Homo sapiens: one gene and its partner. The protein of the gene in region 1 interacts with the protein of each later gene in a biochemical or structural test. Each region holds a gene or a part of one and is shown on either strand. Other genes may lie near its edges. The genes, in order: NUMBL and UBE3A.

Region 1 (3,824 bases):
CAGCGCCCTACACACACCCTCGTTTCCCGAGGGGCACCATTATATTCTTCCTTTATTGGCTGTCCTTGTATAATACAAATCTTCAAGTTTAGATACAAAAAAAATCTGGAAATAAAAGATAGAAAAGTACCCGCCAGGCACCCCTTCCCCTTCTTCCCGGACCCCTCCCCAGCGGGCACCGACATGAGGTAACTGCGCATCTTCTCCTCCTCCTCCCTCCCCGCCTCCTGGGCCCCCAACTTGGCCCTAGCCCCCATGAGACCTTGGCCCAAGGAAGACATGGGCCCCAAAGTTGGAGGGTGATGGAGGTGAGTACAGCATTGGCAGTGAACGCAGCGTGTGGGCAGAGGGCAGCCCTTAGCTTGTGCTGTGCATGGGGGGAGGAGACGACCAGATTTGGGGTGGGCACTGGTGTGGGGCCCAGGAGAGCCCCTAAGCAAGTGTCCCCCCTCCATCCTGTCCAACACTGGAAGGTGGGGGTCAACAGAAACTGGGAAATGGAGTGTGAACCAAGGGCATTCAGTGGGATTGTGGCCAACCCCTGTGTCTGGGGTTGGGGAAGGGGGCATTGCCAGCCTAAGTCCGGCAGTGAAATGGTTCCCTTAGCCAGGCTGGGTCCGTCCCTGAATTCCATCCTGTTGCAACCTGGGCGTCACAATGTTGGTTCTGTAGTGGTTGTCGGGGTGGTTGAGGGAGGGGGGTGTTGAGAGGGTGTTGAGGGGCGCAGCCCCAGGGAGCAGGGTTAGGGGAGAGGTTGTGCCTCCACCCCCAGGCGTGGGGCACCTGGAGATGATGGAGTGGGTGGGGCGGCTCGGGCTACAGTTCAATCTCGAATGTCTTTTGCAGGTCGCCAGAAAAGGGGTTGGAGGGTTTCTCTACAGTGGCTTTGCCTTCTAATGCCGCCCACTGGGCCTCAAAGGGGTCCAACTCTGGAGCTGGGGCAGGCGCTGGCTCAGGGGGCCAGGGGGCCCCATTGGGGCGAGGGCGGGCCTGGCTCCCAGGGGCACTGGGTATGGCAGGGGGCGGGAAGGCCCCAGCTTTCCCAAGCAGAGTGGCAGGCTGAGGCTGGAGCTGGGCGGCTGAGCAGAAGGCGTTTGCCACCATCTGTGAGGGTGTGATGCCCACCACGGGCACCCGGGGCATCGGTGGGTAGCCCAAGCCCGGGTAGGCGGGCACAAAAGGGGGCTGCATGTGTGGGGGTGGCAGGAACACGGCCACTTGGGCAGGTGCAGCGTCAAAGGGCCCCACGGGGGCGGGGAAAGGCTGCAGGGCAGGAGGCATGGTGGGCACTGGGGCCACTGAGGCTGCTTGCTGCTGTTGCTGCTGCTGCTGCTGCTGCTGTTGCTGTTGCTGCTGCTGCTGCTGCTGGGCCTTGGCCACCTGTGACACCTCCTCCAGCCATCGCTCAGCCTCTGAAGGTGTCCGCTTGTGCCCAGGCTGGAAGGCAGCTGCAGGGGGCACGGAGGGCTCACCCCAGGCAGAAGTCCCTGGAGAGAGGAGAGGGACAGGTGAGGGAGGGGGCAACGGCTTCAGCAGAAGAACCCCAGGCTGGGAACTGGCATGGTGTGGGGATCAGAGCACGGACTCTGGAGCCAGACCGCCTGCCTCTGAATCCCAGCTCTGCACCTCCCGAGCTTGCTGACTTCAGGCGAGTGACTTCACCATTCTGGACCACGTAATGGTTCTGGAGTGCTAAGAACATACAATTCTGAGCTTCTAAGGCCCTATGATGAGAAAGTCTAAGTAGGACTGACATCCTCCTAGCCCCACTACCCTTCTGACTGGTCAGTGCCAAGCCTAGGATTCACTATTTTGTTTTGTTTGTTGTCTGTTCGTTTTGAGAGTCTCACTCTGTTGCCCAGGGATGCCCTATCTGGGCTCACTGCAACCTCTGCCTCCCAGGTTCAAGCAATTCTCGTGCCTCAGTCTCCTGAGTAGCTGGGATTACAGGCGCGCACCATTACGCCCGGCTGATTTTTTGTATTTTTAGTAGAGGCGAGGTTTCAACATGTTGCCCAGGCTGGACTCGAACTCCTACCTCAAGTAATCCCCCTGCCTCGGCTTCCCAAAGTACTAGGATTACAGGCATGAGCCACCACACCCAGCTGGTATTCACTATTTTGAATATCACCCTTGATTTTCTAATACCTTCAGAATGTATTGTTTTAGGAGTTAAGATTCTAAGATTGCATGGATCTTTCTCCACATGTATAATAGTATCCTAACATAGTAAGGTTTGACAGTTTAGGGTTGGGCTTTCTAAGATTCTCGAGTTCTACATTTACAGTGTTTGAGATTCTAAGGTGCACCTGTGGTTCTAGGATAAGCCCATGGCTCTAAGATGATACATGGTTCTCAAGGATTCCATGGTTCTGAAACGATCTCTGGGCTCTAAGGTGATCCCAAGATTCTAGCATGAGCACATGCCTCTGAGGTGACCCCGTGGCTCTACAATGATCCCGTATCTCTAAGATAATTCATGGTTCTAAAGTGATCACTTGATTCTCAGGTAATCCCACGGCTCTAAGATGATCCTTGGTTCTAGGATGATCCTCTGGTTCTAAGATGATCTGTGTTTCTAAGGTGATCCTATGGCTCTAAGATGATCCATAGTTCTAGGATGATCCCATGGTTCTAAGGGGATCCCGTGGCTCTAAAATGATCAAGGGCTCTGAGATGATCCATGGCTCTAAGGTGATCACATGATTCTCAGATAATTCCATGGCTCTAAGATGATCCATGGTTCTAGGATAATCCCCTGGCTCTAAGATGATCCCTGGGTCTAAGGTGATCACATGATTCTTAGGTAATCCCATGGCTCTAAGATGAACCACGGATCTAGGATGATCCCCTGGCTCTAAGATGATCCATGGCTCTAAGATGATCACACGATTCTCAGATAATCCCATGGTTCTAGGCTGATCCCCTGGCTCTAAGATGATCCCTGCTTTTAAGGTGATTGCATGATTCTCAGGTAATCCCGTGGCTCTAAGATGATCCATGGATCTAGGATGATCCCCTGGCTCTAAGATGATCCATGGTTCTAAAGTAATCGCATGATTCTCAGGTAATCCCATGGCTCTAAGATGATCCATGGTTGTAGGATGATCCCCTGGCTCTGAGGTGATCCATGGTTCTAAGCCTGTAGGATCCCAAGACCCCTGGAGTGTCTGGGTAGCCCTGGATAGAGGAGGGGATACAGGAGGGACATGCAGGGTGTCTGCCCAGCAGAAAGCCTGGCTTTACCTGTTGTGGCAGGTGGTGGCCCTGGTGCTGGCGCTCCAGCACTGGCAAAAGATGAACTGATCTGTGTGCACAGAGCGTTGATGCTGTCACTGTCGCCGGCACCAGGAGGCTCCATCTCAGGCACTGGGAAGCAGGGCAGGACAGAGGTCAGCAAACAGGCCCAGACCCTGCCGCAGCCCCGCCCTCTACCCCCCGCCCTCGGTGGCCCTCTCTTCTGACCTGGATCCTTTCCCACTGTAGTAACTAAGTGGCCATGACCGCCAAATAACTGTGCATATGTGTGTGTCACATCTGAGCGGCAGAACGACTGAGTTAGTGTGTGACATTTGACGGCTGACAGTAACAGGGACCCCAAACCAAGGACCTCAAGATTTGTGTGTGGCCACAAACCAGAAGAGTTGTCTAAAACACTTAGCAACATATATTAGTTTAAAAATATGCCCAACCACGTGCATGGCAAGGACATGGGCCCAGTCTGAATGGGCTGTGGCATGGCCGCTCACTGGCTGGGGATCATTTGTCCAGCTTTGGGCAGAGAAGTGGGGTCCTGTCCACCCCACCCAGGCTGATCTATGGCA
Region 2 (3,824 bases), on another chromosome or scaffold:
GCGCCACTGCACTCCAGCCTGGGTGACAGAGCAAGACTCCGTCTAAAAAAAAAAAAAAAAAAAGAGGAAAAAGAAAGAAAGGCTAGCTTCAACTACTTCAGTCAACTTGAGGCTTAAACTATTGCTTGAGATTTCCAGATTATCCAAATTAATTTTTTCATGTTCACGATAAACACATGAAGAAAAGTCTGTTATATCTCAAATGTAGTTTAAATGTTTGGGTAACACCAAATCACATAATCACGTTCGTCCATGAGACCTGGAATCCTGACTTCTATTTCCAATTCTGCCATTAATTTATGTAGGCTGGAATCTCTTTTAGATTTCATTTTCCTCACATGTAATACTAAGTTTGATGTTTCATTGTCTTAAATTATTATATAATGCTGAGGATCTATGTATATATAGGCTTCATTCTCTCATTCAGTTTCTGAGAAATTACTTTGAGGGCATAAACCAAGCATATTTCTTGGTTTCATTTTTGATTTCAATTAGAATAAATCACAAGAAAGAACAATGGAAATTACATGTTAACCACAATATAGTGTATGTGTAAGACAAAATTAAACATACCTAGTGCAGCACAGAATAATCTCATTTTTAAAGCTCTGTGAGTCAATGAATAAATAAAAGAATTACGTTCATGTTTCACTAGTAAGAGTGTTCACCAATGCTGGAAGCTGGGAGCTGAAAATGCTGGAAGCTGGGTTAGACTAGGCTATTAGAAACCAGATAAAAAGGGCCAGTGACTTTTAGAGGGGATTTTGCAGAACCTCCTGGTAGTGGGGCTTTTTATCTGTGCCAATCACCTTTATCTGTGCTAATTCCTATTTTTGAACTTCCCTATTCAATTCCACATCTCAGCCATTCCTTTTGGTTTTTAGATATTTATGTGAAATGCTAGAACTCCCTGACTAATTGGAACCAAGTTTCACATCATCATCATCCTCTATTCCAAGCTTGCTGTCCCCATGATCCTCTTAAAAATCTGAGTTTCCAAAACACATAAACATACTTGTATATCAAAATGGCCTTTCTCTTTCTCTCTATATATGCACACATACACACATAAACACACATGCACACACACCCCCACCTGAGCTGAACCAAAGGCCATCTTCCCAAATATTGGAGTCTGGCTTTATCAAAATATTTGTGGAGTATTACCAGAAGTTCAGATTCATAGGCTCTACAATACAGCTTCTAATCTAAACCTCTAGAGGTTAGGGCCCTGGATTTTATTTATTTATTTATTTATTTTTTTTAAACAATTTTCCCATTCAGATGTGAAGGCAGTTTGAGGGACCTCATGATGGCAATACTATATTCTTCCATAAACTTATAACCTCTATCTTCTCCTTTAAGAAGTAATTTAAAAAATCTTAATACATACTATCATTGGAAGTGCTTCATCTAAGAAAAATGAGAAATTATCTACTTGTAAAAGAACACACAAATGGGTATATTTACATATTTGTAAATATGTAAATATTTACATATTTGTAAATATGTAAATATTTACATATTTGTAAATATGTAAATATTTGCATATTTGTAAATATGTAAATATTTACATATTTAAATTAAATTAATTTACATATTAAATTAAATTACATATTTATATTAAAAATGTAAATTTGTAAATATGGTTTTACATATTTGTAAAAACCTCATCACATTAGGAATGTCATTCAAATGAAAGGTGAAGTCTAAGCTCATGTTTATCACTGTACTGTTTTCTAAGGAACAATAACGAAAAAATACTGAAAATAAGTCCTAGGGGAACTATGGCAGTAAGTTAAACGGGTAGGGTGGGGGTGTTCTTAAGCAGTTCTAAGGTATTTGTGAAGAGACAACTTATATTCTATTGATTCTAAAATTCACTTTTTTCACATTATCTCTGAAATCAGATTACACCATACAAATGATAGCATCTTACAATGAATTGCTGGTATTTTTCTGTCTTAGCAGTAATAAAATGATAGTGTTTCCTACAATCAGAGATTAGTGAAAATACTATCAACATGAATTCTTCTCTTGTCATCAAAGACAATTTCTCTAAAAACCTCAGGAAAAAAGCTGCTAGTCTGGTTTGAATTTCACAATATATAAAAGCAATGAATATATTTTTCTTTTTTAAAAAAATCCACAATTATTAATTCAAGTTACCACTCCTCAACAGAAAACATACAAGAGTCTCATATATGAAGTCACTATTTTCTGGGCTTGATTTCTAAACTAAGGAGTGGATAACTCTAAGGTTTCTTTTAGCTCTTAAAGCCTAGGATCCCATAATTTTATTTATCAATATTAAGCTTACCACAAAGTTTCTCATTTCTTCTTTTCCACCCAACCCTGCTATACAATTCCAAAATTAGCAAGTCATAAAAAAGTGGCCACTAGTTTGTTCACTGTGATATATAAGAATGAGGCTTAAAAAGCAGAGATCCTTGGGAAATAAGATCTTGAAAAATTCATCACTTTTGAGCTTTCATATGAGAGAATAATCTTAAACCACTTTCTATTATAGAACTTCTACTATGTGTTACTAAAATATGTGGCTTTATCATAATCATCACCTGCTGTGAATACTTACTTCAAAAAATTACACAGGTTATCAATTTTACTTATAAGACCTATTTCGATGCTGGTTTTTCTAGTCTTTTCACATTCTGTTATTTTTTTAAAAAAAAGAAAAGGAAGAAAAAGCAAGGGAGAAAGAAAGTTAAGAGTAAAATCTGCTTAGTGTGAGCATTCAGAGCCCCTAAGGAAGCTTCTCTGTAAGCATCATCTCTTTCTATTTTCACAGTTTATTAAACTGCCTAACACACATGATTTCTGAAGTGAACTGCTTTTGTGGGCTGGCAATATTCAAGTACATATACTATCTAGTGAATCCTGATTTATGATAGGCCACACTATATTATCTAATTTTGATATAATTAAGCAGAACTTGCTAAAAACAAGTTACCATAATTAAAGAGCTCACAGTTAATTTTACACTAACACCTAAGGCTTTAAAAGCAGTTGTTTCCTTAAAATTCTAGAATAGAATTTAAAATATAGAATAAAGTATATACCAAGTACTTAAACTTTTGTTTTTAGTCTTGCTTTACTAGAGAAAAAAATGGGGGACTGAGGAAAATAAGACTGAGTAGACTTCTGAGCGAAAGACAGATAAGGAAGGTAGACAATTTTTTGAACCCTGGAATGATTCTTACAGTGTAATTTCATTGCCTTTTAAAGGCTAGACATAGCTTTTGATGAAGACAGCTGAAGGGATCTCACCTCAAGAAGCCAAACATAAAGTATGTAGCTTTGGCATTTGCAGTTCTGCTCCAACAATGGATAGTCATAGACAGACCTCAACATACCTTTCATAAAACATCACTCACATTCTTATAAAATACCCTATCATTCTGCTAAACTATGTAAAGTAAGGTGCTGGCTGCCTTATGATCAGTCATTAAGTGTATTAATTATTCATGTGTCTCAAAACTATGTAAGTGAAATAAAAAGGGTACCAGAAAGCAAGCAATAATAATGACTTCAGGCAGTTAAAGCCCCCTTTTGTCTCTGCTAGAAAACCACCTGAGTTGCTTAAATAATGCAGAATCTTTCTCCAACACTATAAACATATCTGACATTAAAAAAAAAAAACAAACCAGTAACAAAAAAAAAAAAAACACACAAAATCTCTGCAATTTTTAATTTCTGAGATGTCAAATAACTTTTTCCACCGGGCTACAGCTTTATGAATTCTCGAATTTAGACAATTCTAAAACTAAAATTTAGACATTCTAAAACTAAAATACATTTTAAAG

Evidence for each region.
Region 2: the proteins of NUMBL (region 1) and UBE3A form a complex in vitro, tested with the Homo sapiens proteins (one large-scale study listed by BioGRID).

Annotation. Positions count from the first base shown.
Region 1 is NC_000019.10:40,666,652-40,670,475, forward strand, and holds part of NUMBL (numb-like protein), read right to left. Parts: intron 3,370-3,824; coding exon 3,247-3,369; intron 1,488-3,246; coding exon 817-1,487; 3' UTR 1-816. UniProt on the Homo sapiens protein: Plays a role in the process of neurogenesis. Required throughout embryonic neurogenesis to maintain neural progenitor cells, also called radial glial cells (RGCs), by allowing their daughter cells to choose progenitor over neuronal cell fate.
Region 2 is NC_000015.10:25,365,703-25,369,526, forward strand, and holds part of UBE3A (ubiquitin-protein ligase E3A), read right to left. Parts: intron 1-3,824. UniProt on the Homo sapiens protein: E3 ubiquitin-protein ligase which accepts ubiquitin from an E2 ubiquitin-conjugating enzyme in the form of a thioester and transfers it to its substrates.